3 separate regions of the Homo sapiens genome follow, and all the other regions are linked to region 3. The links come from fine-mapping of genetic effects on gene expression. A gene starts in region 3. Each other region holds a variant in brackets. All regions are shown on one strand. Distances are between the middles of the regions. Region 1 overlaps LIMA1 (LIM domain and actin binding 1). Region 2 overlaps LIMA1 (LIM domain and actin binding 1). Region 3 holds the start of LIMA1 (LIM domain and actin binding 1).

What was found. PIP is the estimated chance that this variant, and not a neighbour inherited with it, causes the effect. A credible set is the group of variants that fine-mapping cannot tell apart.
Region 1: its variant is the best candidate, but not a certain one, in a credible set for the expression of LIMA1 in whole blood (TOPMed, PIP 0.64).
Region 2: its variant is the best candidate, but not a certain one, in a credible set for the expression of LIMA1 in whole blood (TOPMed, PIP 0.79).

The regions. Positions count from the first base shown.
Region 1 is chr12:50,176,983-50,187,137 of GRCh38, reverse strand. LIMA1 (LIM domain and actin binding 1) reads left to right here. Exons shown (of 11, transcript NM_016357.5): 10 at 5,101-5,234; 11 at 9,069-10,155. The coding sequence ends at 10,074. Among named protein-coding and RNA genes, the nearest start is that of CERS5, 15 kb to the right of the region's middle. The variant C/G (reference allele first, on the strand shown) is at 4,605.
Region 2 is chr12:50,251,500-50,261,654 of GRCh38, reverse strand. All of the region lies in intron 1 of LIMA1 (LIM domain and actin binding 1), which reads left to right. It also overlaps the pseudogene RNU6-1093P. Among named protein-coding and RNA genes, the nearest start is that of MIR1293, 22 kb to the right of the region's middle. The variant G/A (reference allele first, on the strand shown) is at 5,519.
Region 3 is chr12:50,278,683-50,288,837 of GRCh38, reverse strand. It overlaps LIMA1 (LIM domain and actin binding 1), which reads left to right and starts at 5,318. Exons shown (of 11, transcript NM_016357.5): 1 at 5,318-5,418. It overlaps LOC107984505 (a long non-coding RNA gene), which reads right to left and starts at 5,217. Exons shown (of 2, transcript XR_001749144.2): 1 at 4,956-5,217. It also overlaps the pseudogene LOC100418734. RefSeq lists a silencer at 5,098-5,407.

The DNA.
Region 1 (10,155 bases), 100 kb after region 3:
AATCAACAGAGGGTCTGTAATATCCCTCAAACGGGAAAGACAGTATTTATGAACATCAATTATTTATAGATTACCTCATTCACTCTAGAATATCCTGAAGATATTATCTACACATTTTTATTTGAAACAAAGGGAAGACCATAGTTTGTTCAAATTGCTGTCGTGGGATTAATTTCATTTGGGTTAGCATCTGCTCTCCTCCCCAAAGAGTTTCCCTTGGCTGTGGAAATTTAACATTCCAGGACAATTTAGAAAATGCTCTCTTGGTTTGTGAGTCAGGAGTTCTGAGTTTGTGCAGTGAGCAGGTCTATGCAGACCTACCCACAAAGGCTGAGGGAGCTGAAAAGCCAAAGAAAGAGGCTGACAAATCCAGTTTCTCAGAAAGAAACATTTAATAAGAGCTTATGAACAGAAGTGATGTCTAGGAGGCCATGAGACAGTGGATCCCTGCACCAGCCCTCCAGAAAATATCCTTTATATAGCAAGGTTTTAGGATAAAACATGTGCAGCTAGTCACGCTTGACTTTCTTGCAAAACTTATCACTGGAGCGATTGGATAAGCATCTTTATGAGGGGTTGTCTATGCTCTGGGCACTACCCCTTTATGAGGGATAATCTATGCTACAGGCATTGTTTAAAGACTTTGCTGCAGAACAAACCACCTTGGTATGCAGGAGTCAAACCACCAGTTAGCATGGTGGTTTCACTCCAAGATGGCATCACTCCTGCCATGCAACAGGCTGTTTTCCTACAGTTTTAATTCTATTTCTGTTATTGACTATGTGAACTTTGATAAGACCTGGTGTTTAACTTTCTACTTGGTAGGGGCAAAATGGTGGGAGAAGGGGAATGAAAAAAAAAATCTCTTACTAACTGAAAAAATATACTGTGAAGATAAAAAATGTCTAACATTGTCGTATTGGCAGTGTTTTAAACATGGCTGTGCCAAGTCTGAGCATGCCATGAAGGCATGGGCAGGATGTATGCCAGGCCTGTGATAATGGTAGAGATTTTTAGGCACTGACTATGCTTCCTGTTGTCTGAATAGACATGGGGGCAATTACAGAAAAGTGGCTGAGAGCCCAGGACATAGAAAATAAAGGGGAGGCACAGCCGCAGCCGCTGTGAGTTGGCATTTTACCATGTCGGGACCCTCTTGTCTTTATGAAACTAGAAGGGGCCCTTAGGCAGCTGCTGCTGCATAAACCTTAAATAATATTGAAAAGGGTTGATGTGAGAAATGAATAGGAATAATGGGACTCTGATAGGTCTGGCTAGTTAGAAGCTCAAGGTTAGTCAATTATGTGAGCTAGCAATCTATTAACTTGATGTTAAGGAGGAAGACAGACTTTTTGCTCCATGTGGGTGAAGGCTCTATTAAAGAGAGAGCCGATGTGGGTCAGGTGTGGGAGGTAGTAAGCCACTAAAGAATTGTTAATGAGACACTCCTTGTGTGGGTGAAGGCTCATAAAAGCTCGCTCTCCTGAGCTGGGATATGTTCCAGCCTCAGGTAGATACGAGTGAGGCTGATTTTGCCATGATTAGCAGAGTTACTTAAAAAGGAAAAAAAGAAAAATGTGGTCTTATTCTTGGATCTGAGTCTCTGAGTTTCAGCTCAGCTGCAGTAAAGCTCTCCAGGGCACGCCAAATGCTGTGTATTCATTGAAGGTTCCTGTTTGTCTCTTCCAGCTTCTGCCTCCTGCTCCTGGTACCTAATTTCTGCTCCTGCCTTCCACTTTCCTCCTAATGTGAGCTCAACTTTCAGCTTTCTCACAGGTTCTCCTTTCCTTCTGTTCCCTGGGCTGCTTCCCCCTCCCACAGTGTGTGCCTCCCCTCCGTGTGTTTGTGATGGAGGAGTGCTCTGCGTCCTTCAGTTCCCCTTTAGCAGAACAGTATCCATCTCCTCTTATCCCATGTGAAGTTTCTGTCTCCTGCTGTGTCTTTACTGACCAGAATGAGCACTTACTCTCCTACATCTATTTCAAGTGTTAAAAAATACAGAATTCCGGGCCAGGCGCAGTGGCTCACACCTGTAATCCCAGCACTTTGGGAGGCCAAGGTGGGCAGATCACAAGGTTAGGAGTTAGAAACCAGCCTGACCAACATGGTGAAACCCCATCTCTACTAAAAATACAAAAATTAGCCGAGTGTGGTGGTGCACGCCTGTAATCCCAGCTACTCAGGAGGCTGAGGCAGGAGAATCGCTTGAACCCGGAAGGTGGAGCTTGCAGTGAGCTGAGATCGCGCCACTGTACTCCAGTCTGGGTGACAGAGTGAGACTCTGTCTCAAAAAACAAAACAAAACAAAAAAAACAAAAAACGCAGAATTCCCTTTCTGCAACTGAAAATGATTTTTAATCTGATAAATACATTTGTCCTACTTTTACATTATGTGAATTGTGATTTGTACAGGCTCTCTCCAGTAGCATCCATTATACTATTACACCAAAAATTTATTCTGCTTTTTAATATCTCTCCTTTTGTTGTTGTTGTTTTGAGACAGAGTCTTGCCCTGTCTCCAAGGCTGGAGGGCAGTGATGAGATCTCAGCTCACAGCAACTTCTGCTTCCTGGGTTCAAGTGATTCTTGTGCCTCAGCCTCTCTGGTAGCTGGAATTACAGGCGCCCGCCACCACGCCCAGCTAATGTTTGCATTTTCTGTAGAGACAGGGTTTCACCATGTTGGCCAGGCTGCTCTGGAACTTCGACCTCAAGTGATCCACCTGCCTTGGCCTCCCAAAGTGCTGGGATTACAGGCCTGGGCCATCGCACCTGGCCAGTGTATCTCCTACCTAGACAAAGACCTAGTCCTTTTAGAGAAAACTTAATTAAAACTCTGCAAAGATATCTCCATTTAGCAGTGTCCATATAAGAAAAAAAGAATTCTGAACTCCAAATACGATAATGTGTTAATTACTTGCAACAACATTCATTACAATAACATTTGGTTATATTTAAATACCTCCCTTATGCTAAACTAGGTTGTAACCTGTGGTCTTTTGATTCTTTAGATGTTTCTTTTTAGGACATTGCCCCTAGAATAAAGCAGAGTCCTGGTAACTAGCCATTTCCACTCAGCTTTGTTCCTTCCTTCTTAAATCCCTTGGGCACTACTTGGGAGTTTACCACTAATTTTATTAAACTTCCTTTTATAGATTTCTTTATTTTCATTTTATGCACATTTTCTGCTCTCACTTCCTGCCCAAATCTACTTGGAAAACCATTTTTATTTTTTGCTTTACCTCCTAGTGAATCATGTGGCAAGTGAACCAACAGTCTGAATTTTTTATGGGCCTGTTTTGGGTTTTTTTTTTTTTTTTTTTTTTTTGAGACCAAGTCTCACTCTGTTGCCCAAGCTGGAGTGCAGTGGCTCAATCTCGGCTCACTGCAACCTCTGCCTCCCAGGTTCAAGCGATTCTCCTGCCTCAGCCTCCCGAGTAGCTGGGACTATAGGCACACGCCACCATGCCCGGCTAATTTTTGTATTTTTAGTAGAGATGGGGTTTCACTATGTTGGCCAGGCTGGTCTTGAACTCCTGACCTCGTGATCTGCCTACCTCAACCTCCCAAAGTGTGGGATTATGGGCGTGAGACACTACACCCAGCCTATTTTGGATTTTTTTTACTCAAAATTCTATCTTGCCCATAACCTGGTTCATTTCAGGCTTAACTATCCAGGTCCTGGGCCTTGGGATTAATTTGCATTACTTACCATCATGTGTTTTCTGGTGAGAGCCCAGGCTGATCATGGCAGCAAAAGCACCTCCTAATTGCTGATGAGAGCTTCCTGGCCACCTAAGCTGTCTCCCGCATCTACTGGTTGAGGTGTTTGTGTTGGGCAAGTCAAGGGTTAACTCCCATACACCTAGGGACTTTGCATTCCCATCTACTCCCCACCCCTTAGTAGCCATGTAACTATTTCTTTTCTTTATTTTTTGAGATGGAGTCTCACTCTGTCGCCCAGGCTGGAGTGCAGTGGCGCCATCTCGGCTCACTACAAGCTCTGCCTCCCGGGTTCACGCCATTCTCCTGCCTCAGCCTCCCGAGTAACTGGGATTACACGAGTGTACCACTACGCCTGCCTAATTTTTGTATTTTTACTGGAGACGGGGTTTCACCATGTTGGCCAGGCTGGTCTCGAACTCCTGACCTCATGATCCGCCCACCTCGGCCTCCTAAAGTGCTGGGATTACAAGCATGAGCCACCGCACCTGGCCCATGTAACTATTTCTTATCATGTGAAAGCTTATAATATTTTTGGAGTTCTGGCTTTTATCAGTGCTAGAATACCAACTGTTTTATATTCTTTAGGATTGAGTTTATCAGGTAGAACCACTGTGCCCATGTTTGTTCCAACTTTACAAACAGTTCATGAATTCCCAGTCATTAATACATTAACCAGTGTGTTTCCCATTGCATTAGTTTTTCTCTCCATTGGTTTTTAGAAATATTATAGAACCTATAGCTTTAATGGGCTATGCTTCCCTCTGGTGTCCTAATAAAATACTTTGTGTCTCTTATAAATTGTTCCACTTGTGTGTCAGTTTTGACTTGTTTAAAAATAGTATGTCTAGTTGATTGAACAAATCAAGATTATAAGCAGAG[C/G]AGAATAAAAGGGGCTTTACTGAAATGTCTTTCCTAATTCCCAAAGCCAAATGCTCTTCCTCTCCTTGAAATTTATCCCCTTTAGAATCTGTCTTGTGTTTACTTGGCACTTGAATCAAACTTCTTTCTTCTGTGTGTGATAACATTTTCTCCTAATCCCTGCACTCCCCCCCCCGACCCCTTCCCCCATCCCCTGCTCCTAACATTTTTTATGTGGGTCGTGACTTGTCTAAGCCATTCTTTGTAATCCAGACGTAGCTCCACCTATCCTTGGTGGCTGCTACATTTAGAGCAGCCACACAGTTTGGGAAGGGAATATCAAGAGAGCCTCTTGGCTTTAAAGAGTCAGCTGATAGAATTGTAGCAGGTTTAGTGCTCCATGAGAATTGACTGACCAGCTAAGGGAGCCCTTAGACAAAGTAAATTCTAGGGTCCATCTCAAGACAGTGCTAACTCATCGCTGCCCATGCTAAAGTTGTCTTTTTGTTTTTCCTAGAAGTTTCAGGCACCTGCAAGAGAGACCTGCGTGGAATGTCAGAAGACAGTCTATCCAATGGAGCGTCTCTTGGCCAACCAGCAGGTGTTTCACATCAGCTGCTTCCGTTGCTCCTATTGCAACAACAAACTCAGGTAAGTCAGCCCAAAACAAGCCATCTGTCTATAACTGGAACTCTAGAGGGAGTCTTTGGCTTTTAGAGCACTGGTGCTAAAAGCTACTGTGCTAATGATATTCTGTTGAAGGCTCTTGAATAAAGTAAAAAGCATCATTTAGTGACAAGTCTTTCATACCAAATAATGATGGTGTTTGGAACTTCTTGGTGTATTGATATGTTAATTTACATGTTAGGACCGAAGCTTAAATAATATGAGTTGCAGGTAAACCCCCCTGTGACCTAATTTAATAGAATGTTTTCCCTTGGTATCACAGAATCACAAAGTTAAGAAATCTCAAGAGGTTACTTGTTTAAGCCCTTACTTGTCTTAACCACTGTATAAATGATAATAATGGCAATAATAATAGCCCCTGGAGAGCATGTCTTTTTCTCTATGTTGCCTCACTTTATTTCTGAGAAAATAGTTGTTACATATCATTTCTTCCAAGTAACTCAAAGTGCAAATATAAATGTGACAAATCGGGGAAACATTCCAAATTAACTCATTTTAATCATAGAGTCTTACAGAAGGAAGTAACCAAGATGTCACTTTCTCCAGCTTTCCTTTCTGAGCAATCCTTCCTAAAATACTCTTGAAAGATGTTTTGGCATCTGTGTGACATTTCTAGCTATTAGATAGCTCTAGCTAGACAGCTTCTCCAAACATGCAGCCAAAGTGTACCTCAGTCACTTCCACTCATTAGTTCTTCTGCTGCCCACTGTGTTAATTTTTTTCTCCAAAGCACCTTTTTTTTTTTTTTTTTTTTTGGATACAGAGTCTCACTCTGTTGCCCAGGGTGGAGTGCAGTGGCGTGATCTCAGCTCACTGCAACCTCTACCTCCTGAGTTCAAGCGATTCTCCTGCCTCAGCCTCCCAAGTAGCTGGGACTACAGGCGCCCGCCACCACACCCAGCTAATTTTTTGTATTTTTAGTAGAGAAGGGGTTTCACCATGTTAGCCAGGATGGTCTTGATCTCCTGACCTCGTGATCCACCCGCCTCGGCCTCCCAAAGTGCTGAGATTATAGGTGTGAGCCACTGTGCCTGGCTTAAAGCACCTTATTTCTTTTGTGGAAGTGCTGCCGTTTTATACCCCCTTTAACATTTGTCACTCTTCAGAATGGTTCGTAACTTAAGGGAAAAAACTTTAAAAAGATAAAACTTATCATCCTGCAAGAGACACCAAATCTCCTAAAGGCTTGTCTAGGACTGACATTAGGGAAAAACTACCTCCTGTCAACTCCTCACCATTCTTCTATTAATCAAGCTTATATCTAGGTGTGGATATAAGGATCACACCTGTAATCCTAGCATTTTGGGAGTGCCCAGGTAGGAGGATCACTTGATGCCAGAAGTTCAAGACTAGCCTGGGTAACATAGAGAGACCCCATCTGGTTTTTCTTTTTGAGATGGAGTCTCACTCTGTTGCCCAGGCTGGAGTGCAGTGGTGTGATCCTGGCTCACTGCAACCTTTGTCTCCCAGGTTCAAGCGATTCTCATGCCTCAGTCTCCTGAGTAGCTGGGATTACAGGCGGGCACCACCACGCCCAGCTAATTTCTTTCTTTTTTTTTTTTTTTCCGGAGATGGAGTCTTGCTCTGTCGCCCAGGCTGGAGTGCAGTGGGATGATGTCAGCTCACTGCAACCTCCACCTCCCAGGTTCAAGCAATTCTCCTGCCTCAGCCTCCCGAGTGGTTGGGACTACAGGCGTGTGCAACATGCCTGGCTAATTTTTGTATTTTTCATAGAGATGAGGTTTCACCATGTTAGCCACGCTGGTCTTGAACTCCTGACCTCAGTCAGTCTGCCCTCCTCGGCCTCCCAAAGTGCTGGGATTACAGGTGTGAGCAACCACGCCTGGCCAATTTTTGTATTTCTTAGTAGAGATGGGGTTTCACCATGTTGGTCAGGCTGGTCTCAAACTTCTGACCTCAAGTGATCTGCCCACCTCGGCCTCCCAAAGTGCTGGGACTGCACCTGGCCGGAGATCCCATCTCTATGAAAAATTTGGGGAGGCTGAGACTGAGGCTGGAGGATCACTTGAGCCCTGGAGGTCAAGGCTGCAGTGAGCTATGATCATACCATTGCACTCCAGCCTGGGTGACAGAGCAAGACCTCCACTCAAAAAAAAAAACAACAAAAAATGGCTGGGTGCAGTTGCTCATGCCTGTAATCCCAGCACTTTGGGAGGCCGAGGTGGGCAGATCACGAGGTCAGGAGATTGAGACCATCCTGGCTAACAAGGTGAAACCCCGTCTCTACTAAAAATACAAAATATTAGTCAGGTGTGGTGGCGAGTGCCTGTAGTCCCAGCTACTCGGGAGGCTGAGGCAGGAGAATGGCGTGAACCTGGGAGGCGGAGCTTGCAGTGAGCTGAGATCGTGTCACTGCACTCCAGCCTGGGTGACAGAGCGAGACTCTGTCTCAAAAAAAAACAAAAATGGCTGGGCGTGGTGGCTCACGCCTGTAATCCCAGCCCTTTGGGAGGCCGAGGCGGGCAGATCACGAGGTCAAGAGATCGAGACTATCCTGGCCAACATGGTGAAACCCCGTCTCTACTAAAAATACAAAAATTTGCCGTGCATGGTGGCACACACCTGTAGTCCCAACTACTCAGGAGGCTGAGGTAGGAGAATCGCTTGAACCCAGGAGGCAGAGGTTGCAGTGAGCTGAGATCATGCCACTGCACTCCAGCCTGGCGACAGAGCGAGACTCTAACAAAACAAAACAATACAAAAATTAGCCAGGCGTGGTGGCGCACTCCTGTAATCCCAGCTACTCAGGAGGCTGAGGCAGGAGAATTGCTTAAACTTGGGAGGCGGAGGTTGCAGTGAGCCAAGATTGTGCAACTGCACTCCAGCCTGGGCGACAGAGCGAGATTCTCTCAAAAAAAGAAAAGAAAAAGAAAAAAAAAATATATATATATATATGTATTTATATACCGTTAAGAATAGAGTTAATTCAAGCACAAAAGCTTGATGATGGCTACCCAGAAACACTGACTCCAAATGAATGGGGTCAGCATTCCAAAGTGGAGAAAGTTAGTTTCACTTACACAGAAATTTTAGCAAAGATTATGACATTTTTCATATAAGACCAGTGCATATACCACAGTGATTTGATTGGGTACAGATTGGTACATTCCAAGGAAGATTATCACTCGCAAAGAAGGGATAGTGATCTGAGGGGGTCTTATCTCTGGTGCCCTTTGGTCTTCATAATTTATAGTGAAAAGAAAGAGTTGCAGCTACATGCTGTGTGACCCAGGTTGCATAGCCACATTCCTCTCAAGGCTCAGAATGATTTAAAGTTTCTATTACTGTTGGTTTTTTTTTCTTTTTTTTTTTTTTTAAGACAGTCTCGCTCTATCACAGTGGCACAATCTCAGCTCACTGCAACCTCTGCCTCCCGGGTTCAAGTGATTCTCCCACTTCAGCTTCCCAAGTAGCTGAGACTACAGGCATGTGCCACCACACCCAGCTAATTTTTAAATTTTTTGTAGAGATGAATTCTCACTATGTTGGCCGGGCTGGTCTCAAACTCCTGGGCTCAAGCGATCCTCTCACCCTGGCCTCCCAAAGCGCTGGGATTACAGGCATGAGCCACTGCACCCAACCCGTGCTTTGTGTTATGATAAGAAAACAAATGTGCTAAAATGGGGGTAAGGAATTCCTGGTCACTGAAGGGCTTTTAAAGATCTTTTTCTTACTTGGCATCTTCTGAAAATACTGGAATTGCCAGATTTTAGCCTCCTGGTATAAGTGAGAATGTGAAGATTTGCTAAGTTTATGCTTTTTTTCTTTTAATGACAGTCTAGGAACATATGCATCTTTACATGGAAGAATCTATTGTAAGCCTCACTTCAATCAACTCTTTAAATCTAAGGGCAACTATGATGAAGGCTTTGGGCACAGACCACACAAGGATCTATGGGCAAGCAAAAATGAAAACGAAGAGATTTTGGAGAGACCAGCCCAGCTTGCAAATGCAAGGGAGACCCCTCACAGCCCAGGGGTAGAAGATGCCCCTATTGCTAAGGTGGGTGTCCTGGCTGCAAGTATGGAAGCCAAGGCCTCCTCTCAGCAGGAGAAGGAAGACAAGCCAGCTGAAACCAAGAAGCTGAGGATCGCCTGGCCACCCCCCACTGAACTTGGAAGTTCAGGAAGTGCCTTGGAGGAAGGGATCAAAATGTCAAAGCCCAAATGGCCTCCTGAAGACGAAATCAGCAAGCCCGAAGTTCCTGAGGATGTCGATCTAGATCTGAAGAAGCTAAGACGATCTTCTTCACTGAAGGAAAGAAGCCGCCCATTCACTGTAGCAGCTTCATTTCAAAGCACCTCTGTCAAGAGCCCAAAAACTGTGTCCCCACCTATCAGGAAAGGCTGGAGCATGTCAGAGCAGAGTGAAGAGTCTGTGGGTGGAAGAGTTGCAGAAAGGAAACAAGTGGAAAATGCCAAGGCTTCTAAGAAGAATGGGAATGTGGGAAAAACAACCTGGCAAAACAAAGAATCTAAAGGAGAGACAGGGAAGAGAAGTAAGGAAGGTCATAGTTTGGAGATGGAGAATGAGAATCTTGTAGAAAATGGTGCAGACTCCGATGAAGATGATAACAGCTTCCTCAAACAACAATCTCCACAAGAACCCAAGTCTCTGAATTGGTCGAGTTTTGTAGACAACACCTTTGCTGAAGAATTCACTACTCAGAATCAGAAATCCCAGGATGTGGAACTCTGGGAGGGAGAAGTGGTCAAAGAGCTCTCTGTGGAAGAACAGATAAAGAGAAATCGGTATTATGATGAGGATGAGGATGAAGAGTGACAAATTGCAATGATGCTGGGCCTTAAATTCATGTTAGTGTTAGCGAGCCACTGCCCTTTGTCAAAATGTGATGCACATAAG
Region 2 (10,155 bases), 27 kb after region 3:
GATAGGTCTAATACTTTGAGAACTTATAGGGAACCTTTTAGCCCAAGCTTGAGGGGTCAGGGAAGGCATCTGGAACAAAGTGTCACCCAAGCTGGGACCCATAGCAGAAGGCCAGGGAGGCTCAAGCATTTTCAGACAGAGGGTAGCAGTGTCCTCGGGGGGAGTAGTGTGCTCAGAGAATGGCTTGCATCAAGAAATAACTTGAGCATACCTAAAGATGTGAGGAAAAGCTTGTGCAAAATCCATATGTGCAAAGCTTTGTCCAATTTTATTCAAGCTGCATTTATAGAGTTCCTTCTATTTAGAAAGCAATACACTATCACGCCTCTAATCCCAGCACTTGGGGAGGTTGTGGTGGGCAGATCACGAGGTCAGGAGATGGAGACCATCCTGGCTAACACGGTGAAACCCATCTCTACTGAAAAATACAAAAAATTAGCTGGGCGTGGTGGTGGGCACCTGTAGTCCCAGCTACTCGGGAGGCTAAGGCAGGAGAATGACGTGAACCCGGGAGGCGGAGCTTGCAGTGAGCCCAGATCACGCCACTGCCCTCCAGCCTGGGCGACAGAGCGAGACTCCATCTCAAAAAAAAAAAAAAAAAAAAAAAAAAAATATACTAGATGGCAGAAAAGCAAAAGACAAAAAAAGCAGGGAGAGGGGTAAAATAGCATTTACTGATAAGTAAATAAGTAAATAAATGACTTCCTTTTTTTTTTTTTTTTTTGGGGCAAGTTATTAAACTTGCCCAAGATCACTCAGCTAGTGTTCGTGGTGAGAGATCTCAACAGCTAAATTCTAATCCATGCCCCATGCCCTTAGCCTCTTGCTATTTTCTTTCCAAAATGTGTCCCTGTGTTAGGCATTTTATATAGAATTTTTGACTAGCTAGGGTAGGTAATGGTATATGCCTCAGAGAAGTAAAGAAACTTGCACATGTCACCACAGTTAGAGGCCCAGTGAGAACCTGTAAGTTCTCCTTTTAACTTCAAACTTTGTGTACATTTTGTTATACTATGTTATGTGTTATTTTATTTGATAGAAGCAAAAATTCATATACCAATTCTTTGGAGAAAAATGATTTGTAATTAAATGAACTTAATTTGAAGAGTAGAGGTTAAGAAAGGATAATACATATGATTTGGGTTATGTTACGTTGCATATTGGACATATGAAACTATCCAGCATGGAGTAGAAATTCTAGGACTGGGCTGGGCGTGGTGGCTCACGCCTCTAATCCCAGCACTTTGGGAGGCCGAGGCGGGTGGCTCACTAGAGGTCAGGAGTTCGAGACCAGCCTGGCCAACATGGTGAAACCTCGTCTCTACTAAAAATACAAAAACTTAGCCGGGTATGGTGGTGAGCACCTGTAATCCCAGCTATTCGGAAGGCTGAGGCAGGAGAATCACTTGAACCCAGGAGGCGGAAGTTGCAGTGAGCCAAGATTGCGACATTGCACTCCAGCATGGGCAACAAGAGTGAAACTCTGTCTAAAAAAAAAAAAAAAAAAGAAACTCTAGGAGTGGAAGCCAGGAAAGTTAGGCCTTAGGATCCAGCTTTGGGAATCATGTGGAATAAGTGACTTTTGATGAGTTGAGAGTAAGTGAGCTCGCTCAGAGAAGGGAGAGAGACTGACTCTTTATTGATTCCTGGGAGTAAGAGTGGAGGTAGGAAAAGAGGATTCTGCAAGAAAAGAGAAAAGTGGAATTTATTCTCAATTACACAGCCTCATTTTTGTTGCTTTTGCTCTGGGTCTTAGTGTTTTTGAAGGCACAAAATATCCTTTAAAAGGCGATAAAGAGATCAAATATTATTGAAGTGAGTCTGTCCTGATGTAAACATTTACATTCTTGTTGACCCCTGGGAATTTGGTCAATGTTACAATTGTGCTATTGTCTAGATTCATGTTTCTACACATACCTGAAGCTCTTCCAAGAACAGTAGCAGTGATTATTCTAACATGCCTGCAGACTTGTCTATCATCATGTTTCTGAATAATAGAGTAGTGAGCTTTTTATTTATAACATTTGATGTTATTTAGTGGTTCCATTTTTTTATATTGTGAGTTTATATGAGAGTTTGAATAAGCTAAAATTACTGGGTAATTCACAGTTCTGAAAAATATATGCTTCCTCATAACTAGTCTTGGGACTGCAGGATAAGCATTCAGTTTCTGTACTAATTGTGTTTCAGATAAAACTTAAAGCTATGTGTAATTTTATGGAAGGCGTATTTATAGAGTTCTTTCTATTTAGAAAGCAATGTATTAAATACTAGATGTCAGAAGGTTAAAAGACAAAGTAGATCTGTCTTCTGACTTCAAATATCTTGCTATTGAGTAGGAATTATGAAATTATTATAAGGCAGGGGGATTGACTTATGCTGATTAGGAATAGGGCTAGGGCAGTTTGGAAAAGGGCCATGTGTGTTCTTTCACTTGAGTCTTTTAAGGTGAATAGGTTGAGTACGGGATAACATTTCAAATGGAGTGAAAAAAATATACGGTGTATCATGGGAGGAGAAGCTGGTTATGGCATAATTTTAGAGATTCTAGATCTGTTTTCAGAAATCAAAGTTCTGTGGGGTTAGGCTTTTTACTATCAGAGAAAGAAGTTATAAATAAGCCAAGAGGGAATACTAGAATGAACCTTGTGATGCTAGACTGGAGTCAGAAATATCAGTATGAATTTATAGTTTATAAAATTTTTATAGGGCTGGGCGCGGTGACTCACACCTGTAATCCCAGCACTTTGGGGGGCCGAGGTGGGCAGATCACGAGGTCAAGAGATCGAGACCATCCTGGCCAACATGGTGAAACCCTGTCTCTACTAAAAATACAAAAATTACTCGGGTGTGGTGGCGCATGCCTGCGGTCCCAGCTACTCAGAAGGCTGAGGCAGGAGAGTGGCTTGAAGCCGGGAGGCAGAGGTTGCAGTGAGCCGAGATCGCACCACTGCACTCCAGCCTGGTGACAGAGTGAGACTCCATCTCAGAAAAAAAAAAAAAAAAAAAAAAAAAGTATAGGTAGATATAGAGCTAAATAAAGAAATGTGTGCCTATAGGCCAGGCACAGTGGCTCACACCTATAATCCCAGCACTTTGGGAGGCTGAGGCGTGAGGATCACTTAGGCCCAGGAGTTTGACACCAGCCTGGACAATACGGGGAGACTCTGTCTCTACAAAAAAATTTAAAATATTAGCCAGGCGCGGTGGCATGTGTCTAGTCCCAGCTACTTGGCAGGCTGAGGTGGGAGGATCATTTGTGCTCAGGAGGTAGGCTGCAGTGAGCTGTGATTGCACCACTGCAGTCCAGCCTGGGTGACAGTGGATTCTGTCACACACACACACACACACACAAAAAGCAGTGTGTATACATGGGCCAGTATACATACATATAATTCTTGGTTTTGTCCACTAAGACGCCTAGAAGCAGTGACATCTCAGTGGCAATGAGCATAACTAGTAGTGCCCAGATGCTAACTTCTCCCATAAAAGAAAACAGGGCTCCTTGGGGAAATAGTTGATTCCAGGGCTGAGGCATGGTAAATACAAGACGAGCCTGGAACATCTTGCAGTGCTAGAAAGTAAGGAAGTGCTAAAAACAAAACAAACAAAAAACAGGGCAAGTTGAGAGAACACTGGAGCCAAGCCAAAAACTCCAAGAGCTGGAACAATTTAAGCAATAAAATAAGGATAGTATTGGATTATAATACAGGGAATAAAGTAACTATCTATGAAACCATCCTAATATAAATAAATGGTTGGGCTGGACGTGGTGGCTCATGCCTGTAATCCTAGCACTTTGGAGGGCCGAAGCAGGAAGATCATCTTGTGGCATACTGCCAAGGTTACTACTTGAGACCATCACTATGACAGTTACTACTGTTACTACTTGAGACCATCATTATAAGACTGAACTAAGGGTGTGGAAAGCAGAAATGAAAACTTAAAAGTAACTATTTTAAAGGAAGGGGTCAGAGGAAGAAAAAGAGAGTTCCCTGCTTCTAGTGAGCAAAGGCAGCCCACTGAGCTTCCACAGCCCTTTGTATTTATTGGGTAGAAAGAGCAGGGAGGAGGAGGTAACGATTGGTCAGCTGCTTAATTGATCACAGGTTCATATTACTGTTAACAGGTATCAATTATGCCTAATCACAAGAAACACTGCTGGTGTGACTGCCCTCAGCATTCCTTCTGGGTGGCAGATGCAATTTGTCAGTTTGCCAACATTCTGCATTCATGAGAACAGTTTGCTGTTTACTCATATAGCCTCCAGTGGTATACTGAGTTGATCACGACCCTCACTCTTTCGGCCTTCAACATCATCTGAGCTCAGGAATTTGAGACCAGCCTGGACAACATAGGGAGACTTCATCTCTATGTAAATGGTTCTAAGTAATGTAAAATCTTCTAAGTAAATGGTTGAATAAATGAGGGAGAACAAATCTTCGTTATAGAAGAATTTCAATTAATAAATGTAGAAAGGATGACAGTAACAGAAAATCACCATTAGAATACCAGTAATAATTGCCATAAGCAAGACACACCCATGAATGCTAAAATTAATGGGAAAAAGTTTAAGGAGAAACAGAGTCAAAGTTCTCCCTCATAATATTTATGAATTACAAAGGGAAAACAAATAATAACTTTACAGAGGAGAAACCTGATATACCACATTAACCATGTGATCAAGGCTAATGTCGTGAGTAATAAGACATCACATCAACATCACGTACCCTCTGATATGATGCACTGTGAAGGGAACATCAACTCTGGATTATTCCTTTCAAACATTTATAATCTCAATCTAATCTGAGAAAATATCATGTTTTTTAAAAAAACTTTTTTTTGTTTTGTCTTTTGAGTATTGCAAGATGTTCCAGGCTGATCTTGTATTTGCCCTTCCCCAGCTCTGGAATCAACCGCTTCTCCAAGGAGTCTTGATTCTATTTTATTGGAGAAACCAAGAAACCCAAATTGAGGAACATTCTACATAATATCTGACCAATACTTTCAACAATATCGAGGTCATGAAAGACAAGGAAAAGCAGAGTAACTGTCATAGATTGGGGTAGACTTAGGAAGACACGACAACTAAATGCAGTGTATGATCCTGAAACAGAAATAAGACGTTAATTAAAAAACTGGTGGAATTTCAATAAAGTCTATAGTTAATAGTATTGTACCAGTGCTCATTTCTTAGTTTTGCTAATTGTACTATGGTAATATAAGATAAAGCTAGGTGAAATGTATATGGGAACTCTTGTACTGTTTTTGCAACTCTTATGTATGAAATTGTTTCAGAATAAAAGGTGAGTGCTCACTTCAGTCATACATATACTAAAGTTGAAATGATACAGAGAAGATTAGCATGGTCCCTGTGTGAAGTTAACACACAAATTTGTGAAGCAGTCCATGTTTAAAAAAAAAAGTTTAAAAAAAAAAGGTTAAAGAACTATTAACTTCCAGCCAGGCACGGTGGCTCACGCCTGTAATCCCAGCACTTTGGAAGGCCGAGGCGGGC[G/A]GATCATGAGGTCAGGAGTTCAAGACCAGCCTGACCAACATGGTGAAACCCCATCTCTACTAAAAATACAAAAAAAAAAATTAGCCGAGTGTGGTGGCACATGCCTGTAATCACAGCTACCCAGGAGGCTGAGGCAGGACAATTGCTTGAACCTGGGAGGCGGAGGTTGCAGTGAGCCGAGATTGCGCCACTGCACTCTAGCCTGGGCGACAGAGTGAGACTCCATCTCAAAAAAAAAATAAATAACTATTAACTTCCAAAAAATGTTCAAGAATGTGAATTTAGTCACTATTTTTGTACAGAAATATAAATTTAGAAATGTAATTTTCTGAAAAAACATTATGTAGCAATGTATTTCATGTTGCTTTTATTTAAAATTCCCTTTGCAACTTGAAGTTTTTTAGTTTTTTTTTTTCTTTTAATTGCTCCCTTTTACCTGATGACATTCAAATTGGGAAGAGAGGTTGGTAGAAAAACTAAAACTCTACAATCTATTTCTTAAAAATAATGTTTTTCTTTTCTTTCTTTCCTTTCTTTTCTTTCTTTTCTTTACTTTTTTTTTTCTTTTCTTTTCTTTTTTTTTTTTTGACAGGGTCTGGCTCTATAGTCCAGGTTGAGTACAGTGGTGTGATCACGGCTCACTGCAACCTTAACCTCTAGGCTCAAGTGACCCACCTCAGCCTCTTGAGTAGCTGGGACCACAGACACACCACCATGGCCAGATAGTTTTCTGTATTTTTTCTTTGTAGAGACAGGGTTTCACCATGTTGCCCAGGCTGGTCTCAAACTCCTGAGCTCATGTGATCTGCCTGCCTCGGCCTCCCAAAGTGCTGGGATTACAGGCATGAGCCACCACATGTGGCCCATTTTTTCTTCATAAGTGAGTTTGTAGTTTTTACTTTGTTCTAATTTTTTGAGGCTATGTTCAGGAAGCCATACAGCTTGAATAAGTAACCATCTCAGGAGAAAAAAAAGAGAGGAGGCCACTGAGATCGGATATATAAGAACAGGATTTTATTAGTGGCTTGGGGAGGGCTGGTTGCAGGGCCAGCTCATTTATTTTTTGGTTTGGTTTGGTGGTTTTTTTTTGTTTTGTTTTTTTTGGTTTTGTTTTGAGACAGAGTCTTGTGCTGTTGCCCAGGCTGGAGTGCAGTGACACAATTTTTCTTCTGCCTCACCCTCCCGAGTAGCTGGAATTACAGGCATGCACCACCACGCCTGGCTAATTTTTGTATTTTTAGTAGAGACAGGGTTTTACCATGTTGGCCAGGCTGGCCTCGAACTCCTGAACTTAAGTGATCCACTCACCTAAGCCTCCCAGAGTGCTGGGATTACAGGCATAAGCCACCGCGCCCGGCTGTTTTTGTCCAAGCCTGGTTTCTGAGAGACAGTTTCCTTGGTCAGGAGAGTCTGTAAATGAATTTATTAGAATAGGTTTCTTGGAGCAGTTACCGGCCTCACCGTAAGCAACAGCTTGAGGAAGCAGATACCTGGGGCAGATTTCCCAGTGAGTCACTCTTCAACTTTTCAAGGACCTTTGTTCGAGAGATCTTTATCTCCAAGCTACAGCTTACCCTACCCTAGGACAATTTAGTGGCCCATCTCAAGCTACCTGGTTTGATAAAAGAACATTGATCCTGGGAGTTAGAACTCTAGCTCTAATACTAACCAGCTGGTGACTTTGGAAAATGATTGGAGCTTTATGCATCTCAGTTTCCTCACTGTAAAAAAGGGGATTTGGTTACTTGATTTCCAAGCTACTTTCTTAATGAAAAAAATCTGCCATTTGTATCTGAAACTGAAGGCATCTTCCTTCTCAGCAAACTGTTCCCCTTTCTATGTATACCATTTATTTGTCATGCAACGATCCTTCTAGTCTCTGAAGCTAAAAATCTGTGTTTATTTTTGTTATATGTTTCCTTTAACTCTTGCAGCCAACTGTCTTCCAATCCAGCAGTTCTTCCTTCACAGTTCATGTGGTAGTAGAATGCATATGACTGAAGAGAATGGGTTTTGGAGTCTGAAAGTCTGAAAATGGAACTCATATCTGAGAGAGACTGTGTGGGTGGGGAGAGATAATATACCTTTCTTTTTTTTTTTTTTTTTTTTGAGACAGAGTCTCGCTCTGTCGCCCAGGCTGGAGTGCAATGGCATGATCTCGACTCACTGCAACCTCTGCTTCCCGGGTTCAAGCAGTTGTCCTGCCTCAGCCTCCCAAGTAGCTGGGATTACAGGCGCCTGCCACCATGCCTGGCTAATTTTTTGTATGTTTAGTAAAGACAGGATTTTGCTACATTGGCCAGACTGGGTCCGGAACTCCTGACCTCAGGTGATCCGCCTGCCTCAGCCTCCCAAAGTGCTGGGATTACAGGCGTGAGCCACCATGCTGGCCCCAATACCACACCTTTAATGCAGGCCAATGAAAGCCAGTTACTACAATGGAGGGTATTCCAAGTGAGCCCAGGATAACTTTTAAGTTTCCCTGAAAGCAGGAATGATTATCTCTGATATTCACCACTCTGGGAAGATACTCACCACTATTCTCTTACTGAAAAATAATTTGTATGGGTTTTCAGCTAGGTGGTTCAGGGATTTTTCTAGCTGGTTTTCTACATTGGCTAAAAGTGGCGGTTTTAATCATTCTTCATTAATTGTAGTTGAAAGAAAATGGACTTTGGAATCAAACAGAATATGCGTTTGAATCCCAGCTCTGCTACTTTATAGCTAAGTGATCTTTGTAAAGTTAATATGTCTGAATCTCAATTTCGTTACCATAAATATAAGACAATAAAACCAATCCTGTAGAATGATTGTGAGGATTGAGATATATGCAAAGCATAAAGTTAGTGTCTTAAAATCTTCCAAGAGTCGGATTTCTAACTTTAGCTTTGAATTTGTAGTTTCCTATTGTATATCATTTGGATTTCTCTTGCTGACATGTATGTCTCAACATGTGTAAATCAACACTCATCATTTTCCCTCTTCTTTCTATATTTACTGTCTCTGTTAATGGAATCAACAGCCTTCCATCATTCGGGTTTGATGATGCCAGCTTTGATTCTCTTTTACCCTAAGTTCATTTTATTCTAAGAACTGTCAATTTCTCTCTTCCCACTTTTCCATTTCCACCTACCCTAATTAATTTACGAATTTAAACCTTGATTACCTCTCACTTAGTTTCAGGATCTTCTTGACTAGTAATTTAGACTCCAGTCTTTTTCCCTCTTAGCAAGTTGCACACTACTGCTGAATAATATTTTAAAATATGATGTTAGTCATGTTACATGCTTTTTCAGAAACTTTCTGTGTTCCACCAGAGAGACTGTGGTTAATCCACTACAGAGATCTTATCTTACAGGTGTGGATATTGAGGATCAGAAACTTTTTTTGTTATAAAAACCATGCATGTGCTAAGTAAATAGCACATAAGATTAGACCTAATCTCTGATCACTCATGGGTTACTTCTTCCCACTATTGAAATATGGCCCAAACTCCTTAGCATGGTTTTCTTCCCAGTCAGGCCCCATTATGTCTTTTTTTTTTTTTTTTTTTTTTTGAGACAGTTTCGCTCTTGTCACCCAGGCTGGAGTACAGTGGTGCAATCTCGGCTCACTGCAACCTCCGCCTCCCAGGTTCGAGAGAGTCTCTTGCCTCAGCCTTCCGAGCAGCTGGGATTACAGGCGCGTGCCACCACGCCCAGCTAATTTTTTGTATTTTTAGTAGAGATGGGGTTTGGCCATCTTGGGCAGGCTGGTCTCAAACTCCTGACCTCAGGTGATCCGCCTGCCTCAGCCTCCCAAAGTGCTGGGATTATAGGCGTGAGCCACCACACCTGGCCAAGTCTTGTCTATCTTCAACTTCTCTTGCACCTAGAGTTTAACTCACTCCCCAAAGGTGCTAATGCTATTCTCCTCCTTCCTCCTCCTGCCTTCACTTTGATGAAATTCTGCCCGTTCTTTAAGTCCCAAGTCATCTGATATCTTTTCCTTTCCCTCTCACAAAGCCAGAAAATCAGGTCTTGTATTCCTACACCACGCATAGCCTCTAACCACATTCTGTCTTGTACTATAAATATTTGTGTGTATGTCAGCAAGCACAGTAGATTATGTACACCATTCAGGCAGGGACATCTCCCTACATCTCATAAGAAGTAGTTATTCAATAGCCTGGTACCAGAGTCTATCAAAAATCATGTATTGATTCTCACGTTTATCTGTTTCATAGGTACTAATCACATTGCTAAGAAATAACATTATGCTTCTGTGAAGACAAGTGTGGTCAGGGTGAGAGTCATCTCATTCCCTGAGTGTAAGAACTCTAAGAACTGTGTGCCTCTCCTAGCTGTATACCAAAATAGATGTTCTGACTTTTCTTAACTTTCTGGCTGGGAGTAATCAAAACCACGGACTTAGACTTGGGAGTTAACCTTTTTTTTCTTTATCGTGCTCGGTATCTCAAATAATAAATCCTTTTCCTTTTTTAGAAACATACCTTTTTTTTTTTTTTTTTTTGAGGTGGAGTCTCATTCACTCTGTCACCCAGGCTGGAGTGCAGTGGCATGATCTCAGCTCACTGCATCCTCTGCCTCCAGGGTTCAAGTGATTCTCCTGCCTCAGCCTCTCAAGTAGCTGGGATT
Region 3 (10,155 bases):
CTGTCTCTACTAAAAATACAAAAAATTGCTGGGCGTGGTGGCAGGCGCCTGTAATCCCAGCTACTTGGGAGGCTGAGGCAGGAGAATCGTTTGAACCTGGGAGGTGGAGGTTGCTGTGAGCTGAGATCACGCCACTGCACTCTAGCCTGGGTGACAGAGCGAGACTCCATATCAAAAAAAAAGAAAAAATAATTCAAAATACATGTTTTAAAATTTCACTTAAATGATATTATTTTCCACAGTGAAGAAGTCCAAGAAGGTGATTTTAACAAATAAAAACAACTTAAAATGATGTTTCTAATAAAAGACATGTATTCATTACTTTTTAGTAACACATTCTTAGGCAGAGGTTTAAATCTATTTTTGACTAGGTGTGGCAGTTCATGCCTGTAAGCCCAGTGCTTTGGGAGTCCAAGATGAGAAGATTGCTTGAGGCCAAGAGTTCAAGACCAGCCTAGGCAACATGTGACACCCCATCTCTACCAAAAGTTTTTAAAAATTAGCCAGGTGTAGTGGCATGTGCCTGTCGTCCCAGCTACTTGAGAGGCAGAGGCACGAGAATCACTTGAGTTCAGGAGTGTGAGGTTGTAATGAGCTATGATTGTGCCACAGCACTCCAACCTGGGCAACAGAGTGAGACCCTGCCTCAAAAAAAAAATTATTAAATGGAATGACTTCAAACTGATGACTTAACCAAATATTCAACTTGAGAGTCATGCTTTCTAATGCCAATTTTTAATTTTTCCAAAGCTTTTATAGTGCATTCTATTAATTTTTTAATTTTCTGAATGTTGGTTGATCTTAACTGCAGTGCAACTGAAAGTAATGAAAATTATTTAAGAATATCAATCATTAAAGTAAGGTATTACAAGAAATTAATATTAGCTGATCTTGTTGCTAGGCCAGAATAAAAAGAATGAGAAAAATGCATTTATAATGTAGGATATGTGTGCCATGCAGCATTAGCGGTTGGTAAAGTACATGTCCACCCATCTCAACCTAAGTACTTGGCTAATTTTAATAATTTCAGTTTCAAGTTATTTAGCTATAATTTCCAACTGTTTCCTTTTTTTGGGTTGGTGGTAAACAGAATAAATTTTATCCATAATATTGTTATTTTTTCTTGAGACGGAGTCTCACTCTGTCTCAGGCTGGGGTGCAGTGGCACAATCTCAGTCCACTGCAACTTCCGCCTCCTGGGTTCAAGTGATTCTCCTGCCTCAGCCTCCCGAGTAGCTGTGACTACTGGCGTGCACCACCACGCCCAGTGAATTTTTGTATTTTTAGTAGAGACAGGCTTTCACCATGTTAGCCAAGCCAGTTCTGAATTCCTGACCTCAAGTTATCCGCCTGCCTCGGCCTTCTAAAGTGCTGGAATTACAGGCATGAGCCACCGTGCCCAGACTATCCAGAATATTTTTAAATGATTGACTTGTTTTATTTCAGATACTGAATTATAATTGGTAACAGAACCAAATGATGACATTAGGAAATTTTTCTGACAAATCTGTGGCCACTCCAGTCTTCTTTCCCATTATTGTGAAAGCACCATTAAAACAAAATGCAGCTTACTTTCAACTATTCATTATTAAATTTCAAATATTCATTACTGAAGCCACATTTAAAGTAGACAATATCGGCTGGGCGCGGCGGTTCACGCCTGTAATCCCAGCACTTTGGGAGGCCAAGGCTGGTCGATCACTAGAGGTCAAGAGTTTGAGACCGGCCTGGCCAACATGGTGAAACCCTGTCTCTACTAAAAATACAAAAATTAGCTGGGCTTGGTGGTGCACGCCTGTAATCCCAGCTACTTGGTTGAGACAGGAGAATCACTTGAACCCAGGGGGCAGAGGTTGCAGTGAGCCAAGATCGTGCCAGTGCACTCCAGCCTGAGGGACAGAGCACAACTCTGCCTCAAAAGAAAAAAAGTAAAATAGACAATAATGTAGTAGAAATATAATCTGTGTGGCAGACACCAATTACTTTTTTTTTTTTTTTTGGAGATGGAGTCTCGCTCTGTTGCCCAGGCTGGAGTGCAATGGTGTGATCTCTGCTCACTGCAACCTGTGTCTCTGGAGTTCAAGCGATTCTCCTGCCTCAGCCTCCTGAGTAGCTGGGACTACAGGCGCACACTACTACACCTGGCTAATTTTTGTATTTTTAGTAGAGATGGGATTTCACCATGTTGTCCAGGCTGGTCTCGAACTTCTGACCTCGTGATCCGCCCACTTGTGATCTGCCCACCTCAGCCTCCCAAAGTGCTGGGATTATAGGCGTGAGCCACCGTGCCCAGCTGACACCAATTCTTTTAAAGCAACAAATATCTTTACCAGTACAGAAGCTTATTCAACTGTGTACTGGAGATAAATCTCTAGGTAATTTTCTTCCAATATGTAGATGTCTCATCAATTATAGTGCATATTTGCCATTCTCTTCCAAGATTCTTAAATATGTTGACATAATTTCTTTTGCAGTATGTTCTGCTATTCTTGTTGCACCGTATCATGTATGTAAACATTTGCCTGTATCTACTCCATTTTTCCCTTTCAACTCTATTGTTCCCTTCACTATCAGATAAAGGCCTATGAGTTTTTTGTTTGAGACAGGGTCTTGTTCTGTCGCCCAGGCTGGAGTGCAGTGGTGTGATCTCGGCTCATTACAATCTCCAACTCCTGGGCTCAAGGCATCCTCCCACTTCACACTCCCAGGTAACTGGGATTACAGGCACACACCACCACACCCAGCTTTTTTGTCTGTTTATTTTATTTGTTTGTAAAGACAGGGTTTTGCCATGTTGGCCAGGCTAGTCTCTAACTCCTGGCCTCAAGTGATCCCTGCCTGGGCCTCCCAAAGTGCTGGGATTACAGGTGTGAGCCACTGCACCTGGCCCATGCCCATTCTTTAAGTATTGTCTATGGCTACTTTGGCACATTTGGCACTACAGTGAGAGCTGAGTAGCTGTGACAGAGACTATAAGTCCCACAAAGCCTAAAATATTTACTATTTGGCTGTTTACACAAAAGGTTTGCTAACATATGGTCTAGAAAAATCAACAAAACAATAAATCACGCCCTGACTTGCTGCATTTGCCCATTTCCATGGTGTAAATACTCCCCTTACAGCCAATTTCGTGCTACCAATGTGACATTTCTGAATAGAGTTGGGAAGAGATGCATACAACATATGTAGTATTTCCACAGGGAATACAATGGACAAATAACCTCAAGAGCAGAATTATTAGTAAAATGAAGAAAAAAACTACAAAGTGATGAGTTTTTAATATTTATTATATTTAAAAATTTTTTTTTAGAAATAGGGTCTCACTCTGTTGCCCAGGCTGGAGTGCAGTGGTGTGATCATAGCTCACTGCAACATCAAACTTCTAGCCTCAAGCCATCTTCCCGCCTTAGCCTCCCAAAGCACTGGGATTACAAATGTGACTCAACATGCCTGGCCTATTACTTTTATTTTTAAGATAATTTAATTGTAGCTTATATAATTTGATTTCTAATAATGGTTGTGCTTATGACCTGGCTCATAAAATCCCTGAAAATTTAGCAATCAACCTAATGCTAGCTCTATCTTCAAAAGGAGGCTTTGGGAAAGCAAGTAATTTTTGTATCCACTAAAGCACAGAGCTAAAAAAAATTGGGGGGAGGGGAGACATCTATTGAGGGAACGCCACATGCAGGGTAACGTATTTTCTGGAGTACTATCCTGTATTGATATTGTATGCTCTTTAGCATTCCCATGCTGTCTGCCACTTTTGCTGGAGTCTTGATACTTGATACTGTTAATGCAAAATAAGTAGCAGGCCATTAGTTTGGAGTTGTTTTTGTACCCAGAAAGCAACCCAAAATTTAGAGGTATTCCTTGCACCTTTTGTTTGTTTTGTTTTTTTGAGATGGAGTCTCGTTCTCTCATCCAGGCTGGAGTGCAGTGGCGAGATCTCTGCTCACTGCAATCTCCACTTCCCGGGTTCAAGTCATTCTCGTGCCTCAGCCTCCCGAGTAGCTGGGATTACAGGCACTTACCACCACGTCCGGCTAATTTTTGTATTTTTAGTGGAGACGGTGCTTCGCCATGTTGGCTAGGCTGGTCTCGAACTCCTAACCTCAGGGGATCCGCCTGCCTCAGCCTCCCAAAGTGCTGGGATTACAGGTGTGAGCCACCGCGCCCGGCCCCTTGTACCTGATTTTGAATGGAGTTTCAACCAATCACAAACAGACAACCAGCCAAGTGGTTATATAATTAGGGACCTCCCATGTGACCATACCCAAATAAGGCAAACGCTTAGCTGTAGCCAATCAAATTTCTTTACTTTCGTGTTCAGCCTATAAAGTTTGATGCCTGGGCAGCTAGAGCAGGGGTGTCTGAGCCTCTTTTGGTTCTGACTGTTGTCCGATTCAAAATCTAAGTTTGTTTTGTCTGAAATTTTTATTTCTACAATACCTATCCAGAAATCAGTCTAGGCTGGATATTTGAAGGAAGAAGGGAATAACTGGCTGGCATATTCATCACCTGTTGGAAATCTCTCTTCTCACACATTTTCATTAACTTCTTGAGGAAGTGTAATTACAAGCGTTTTCCCACGAGCAGCCCCTACTAATAACGCATCAAGCTGCATGAATTCCGAAAAGCTTCAGAAAACTTGTGGTCTGAAACCCTACTATGCTTGAGGTACAGGAAAGAAGGATACTATCAAAAGGCATCATGCAGCTGGCACGGAACTGGGACAAGAATTTGGGGGCAGGATGGCCAAGTGCTAGGCCAATTGACGGTCTCCAAACCATTAGCACAGCTCCTATTCTGAATGGAGGAGTAAAAACAGCTGTTGGAGAACTTGGACGTCATCTGCCCTTGTCAAACCGTTTTCAGGATTAATGTACTTAATTCAGCTTTTTCCACTACACCACACAGCCTCCTGTAAAACACCCTCCCTGCACACAACTTACCCCCAAAGCACCAGGAACCTAGCTGGCTAGAGTTGAGCTTAGGAAAAACCTGAGTGGCTCCAGAGTCAAACTGCGATAACGTTGAGTCAGAGGAGTTAAGGACAAAGTAGAGCTGCACAGAGGCCCACGTCGTGCAAGTGCGTGTCTCCTTCAGAGAAAAGCGTGCCGAGGTAGACTAGGCCCCGGGCAGCAAAAACCCTGTCCCGTCGCCAGCGCCCCGCACCGCCAGAGCGACTGGAGCAGACGCGAGCGCTGGGCACGTAGCCGGTGGCGCGCACGCTCAGCCCGAGGCCGCACGGGAGGCTGTCTGGCGTGCGCGCCCCCGCGGCGGTGGGCGGGGTCCGGGGCGGGGCCGCAGGAGCAGTAGGTGTTAGCAGCTTGGTCGCGACAGGTGCGCTAGGTAGAGCGCCGGGACCTGTGACAGGGCTGGTAGCAGCGCAGAGGAAAGGCGGCTTTTAGCCAGGTAAGGGCCTTCTCTCTCCACAACCGGAGAGTGCGGGAAGACCCCGGCTTCTCTCCACACCCTCTTTCTCCTTCGACTTTTGGGGCGGGGGGAGTGCAAGGAGTGTGAGTCCCTCCCCCTCGAGATAAGGGGTCGAGGGACGCTGATCCTCCGTTCTTTCCTCACTTCTGGGGCCTGCGCTGGGTGGGGAGTGCTTATGTCGGGCTGAGCCTTTGCTGCCCAAGGGCGGGAGCTGCAAATACCCCGTCCTCTCCCACCGAGAACACTGCATTCTAACTGTATACTTTCTGGTGTGGTGGAGGAAGGTGACAATTCATTAAAACTCCAAATACCCTCCTTCCAGGGAAATACTGTAATATTCAACTGTTCTTTTTCCTTCATTTTCAGCCATTCCCTCTCTTTTCGATTTTTTCTCCCTTCCATTACGCCAGCTGAACTCTGTTTAAGACACTTACACCCTTTTGAGGAATGTTGAGAATATAGCAGTCCTTGCAGCCGATGTGTCATCCCCGAATCGCTATCGTGTATATATCGCTGGCACTTGCCCCCGACATATGTTGGTGTTAATGTAAGGTAATTGTACACCCCTGGCTACACATACTAAAGCTTGAAGTTGTAGCTGCTAGGAACGAACCATCTGGCACCCTTCCTAGCCTCCTTACTGATGCTTGCAAGAACGGTTTAGCTGATCCTGGTGAGAGATATTTGAACTACTATTGTCTTGCACCTAATTCCAGCTTTCAAAAGTCTGCCTTGGACGGGCGCAGTGGCTCACGCCTATAATCCCAACACTTTGGGAAACTGAGGCGGGAGGATCGCTTGAGCCCAGGTGTTTGAGACCAGCCAAGGCAACTTAGCGAGACCCTTGTCTCTACAAAAAAATAAATAAATAAATAAAAATAAAAGATAAGTCTGCCTAATCCAGATCTGCCTAATCCAGATGGTTCAATTGACTTGACTTTTCAGGTTAGTCAAAGGTAATTAGGGAGTTATCAGTTTTTAAGGCAATGCCCATTTTGGGGAGAGGTTTTCTTTTGCATTAAGTATTCTTTCTTTTGCTCTTGATTTAAATGGTTTAACACAGTACCTTTTATCTGCTTGGTTACCAATACTATTCACAAATGCTAAATATTTCAGGAGCCATGAAATAACACCAATCCTTTCTTCTGAGGTATGATGTAGACACAAAAGAACATGACCCCTAACAACATGTTCTAAGTTCCTGTAGAGGTATAACCTGGGTGCAGGATGATCACGTTTTAGATAGATCTTCAAAAAATTATAGAGTTGGCGTGAAAGAAGGCAAAAAAAAGTGTGTGTTCATATATGTTTTCTTGTTTTGCATTGATAGAACAACATATAATGTACTAGGTAATTAGTTTAGGAACTTATTTCATTCTTTGGACAAAATATTGAGTGCCTTTCATGTCAGTCCTACTGTAGATTCAAAGTGCCAAACGTCTTTACCCTAAAAGAACTTAAAATCAAATGGGTTAGACAGATCCACATACAATTTATGGTATTAGTGAGGTCATTTCTATACTAGAGGTCAGCCCAGGGTACTGTAGGAGCATAGGGAATATAGGTGTTTTGTTTTGTTTTTTAATTCTCTCTTCTGCTTTTCCTTAAAAACAAAAACCTCTGAGTAATAATGAGTGATTCTCTTCAATCTATGTATTTGTATCACTTTCATATTTCTTACCCTCTCTTCCTCCAATTCTATGGCCTATGGAAAATGGGATTAGACCCTGTTGTTAATGTGGCATTTAGTAAATAGTTGGATCTGTTTCCACTGTTCTGTATTGGGCTGGGAAGTGTTGTTATCAGGTAGTCCCTGGGAAGAGAACAGTATATTGGCAACATTAGCAAAGGAGTGCCATTTTGTAAAAATTACCTCATTGTATAACTTTCTTTAACTTGGTACACTCAAGCTTTGTTCCAGACTCTGGTTAAAGGTGGGGCTAAATTTCAACCTAATAATTCTAAAAGAAAGCTTCAGAAGCTAAAACAATTCACATCTTGGTGACAGGGGATACTTTTTCCTGCTAAGATGCCCTCAAAATGTTTTTCTCTTTCTTTTTTTCTTGGGTGGGGAAGACAGGGTAGATAGGTGGGTGGGGAAAAATGTTTTTAAGTATAATTTTGACTAGTGTTTCTTCAGGTTTCAAATTCTTATATTTTCTCTGGTATTTTTCACCAGTTAACTGCAATTAACTTAGAGCCCTCGTACCAAAAAAATTTATCAAAGACACACACACAGACACAAAAGAATATTGAGAGTGTGGGAGTTCATTAGACATCTTTGGCATAATAGGGCACCTAACCACAAATTGGAAGAATTTATTATTTAAATTGACAGTGAAACTAGTTTCAGGCATTCTTAATTCCATACACTATTAGATAGATGACTTTTAGATTAGAATTGTACCCTTTCTGCAGATAGGAAAATGTATAACGAGTCCTAAGTTAGTAATTTCCATTAGAAAAGGCAATTGTTTTTTAAGTTTGCTATTGTCTTTCACTGTATGTTTTTTGATAGAAACTTAAGGTACTTCATTTTAGATTGCATACAGTAATCTCCAGGTGAGGTTACTTAACACAGCCTCTTCAGGTTACTAACAAACCAGTGGTTGTAAATGAAGTAGTTTCTACTTAATGATTATGGAGTTGAGAGTCTATGGTGGATGATAAGGTAGGACCATACTGATGAGTTTATTCTGAAGCTGGGTGCAGAGTCCTCAAGACTCAGTCAAATTATTGTGCTACTGAAGACCTCTTTTCATAAAAAGGATGGAGTTTGACCTAACAAGCAATCCATTATTCAGCATGTCAGATGATTTCTTGACACGTGAAAACTTTCTAGAGACTTCCTGTGTCCACTCATAAGAAGTTAACATGATACCATGAAAATTTTACATTCTTTTGATGTTCTTTTAAATAATTTCTTAATACTACTACCCTGGGCCGGGCGCGGTGGCTCACGCCTGTAATCCCAGCACTTTGGGAGGCCGAGGCGGGAGGATCACGAGGTCAGGAGATCGAGACCATCCTAGCTAACATGGTGAAACCCAGTCTCTACTAAAAATACAAAAACAAAATTAGCCGGGCGTGGTGGCAGGCGCCTGTAGTCCTAGCTACTCGGGAGGCTGAGGCGGGAGAATGGCGTGAACCCGGGAGGCGGAGCTTGCAGTGAGCGGAGATCGCGCCACTGCACTCCAGCCTGCGTGACAGAGTGAGACTCCGTCTCAAAAAAAAAAAAAAAAAAAAAAAAAAAATACTACTACCCTGAAACTAAGAACTTTCATCTTTAGGGGAAAAAAAGATGCAACTTTTTTGTACTTCTGATAACAAGTGTGGATCTATTTTCCCCCTTAATTATTCTGTAACAGAGTTTATGATATGGAAAACTTTACAGTCCTTCAAATATGTTTTGTCTTGCACAAAGTATTGCCATTTTTGTTTCATTACCCATAAATTAGTCCCAATATCCGCTTTACTTAGTTTTAGATTTCCACAATCTTTTTTTTCTCCATAAACTGAAATTCAAGCTAATGCCCCGGGACTTCTTTTATTTCATAGTCAGTTTTACTAAACAGGTAACATTTGCTCAGCTTTGGCGTCTGAGCAAAAATTTGGCTTCCAGCACTACAGGAAAGCTGTCTGTCCATGCATAGTATCCAGTGGTTTCTGTCTAACGGTCCTTACCCCTTGGCAATAACTGACCAAGTGAACAACTTGTCTAGTTCTTCCTTTCATTTGCTTTTCTTGACATGACTACTATCTGGTTCTCCATTTTCTAATCTAACCACTTACTCCCATGATCCATTAACTCAGTCTTTTTGCCCCTTAAATGCCGGGTTCACCATAGCCCTGCTCAGCTTCCTATTCTCACTATACTTTCTCCCTTTATAATCTGATTTCTTTCCATGACTTCCACTATCACCTCCATGTAAGTGGCCTGAAAATTTATCTTTTTAAAAAACTTCTTTCATATTGTATATATAATTGTTTTATTTTCATATATGCCAACACATTTAAAAATAAAAATTATAGATATTTATATTATTATAAAATAAAAATTATATATGTTTATTATAGAAAATGTGGAAAAAACAGGCCGGGTGTGATGGCTCATGCCTGTAATCCCAGCACTTTGGGAGGCTGAGGCGGGTGATCACTTGAGGTCAGGAGTTCGAGACCAGCCTGGCCAACATAGTGAAACCCCATCTCTACTAAAAATACAAAAATTAGCTGGGCATGGTGGCGCATGCCTGTAGTCCCAGCTACTAAGGAGGCTGAAGCAGGAGAATCCCTTGAACCCAGGAGGCAGAGGTTGCAGAGAGCCAAGCTCATGCCACTGCACTCCAGCCTGGGTGACAAAGCAAGACTCCATATCAAAAAAAAAAAAAGAAAAGAAAAGAAAAAAAGAAAATGTGGAAAAAACAAATTATAAAGAAGACAAAATAACCCATATTCCATAATCTGTTCCAGAGAGATCTATCATTTGATATATTTCCTTTCAGTGGTTTTGTTTTCTTTGATATACACACACTCACATAAACACAAAGGTAATTGAACTCATACTGTTGCAGTAGATATAGTTTTGTGTCTGCTTTTTTTGCTTTATATTATTTTTCATAGCATCAAAAATTTTTGAAAACATTTAAATGGATATTTAATCTCCATTGTAATCTATTTAATAATTTATTATATTGAGGTTGCATAATTTATTTGTGT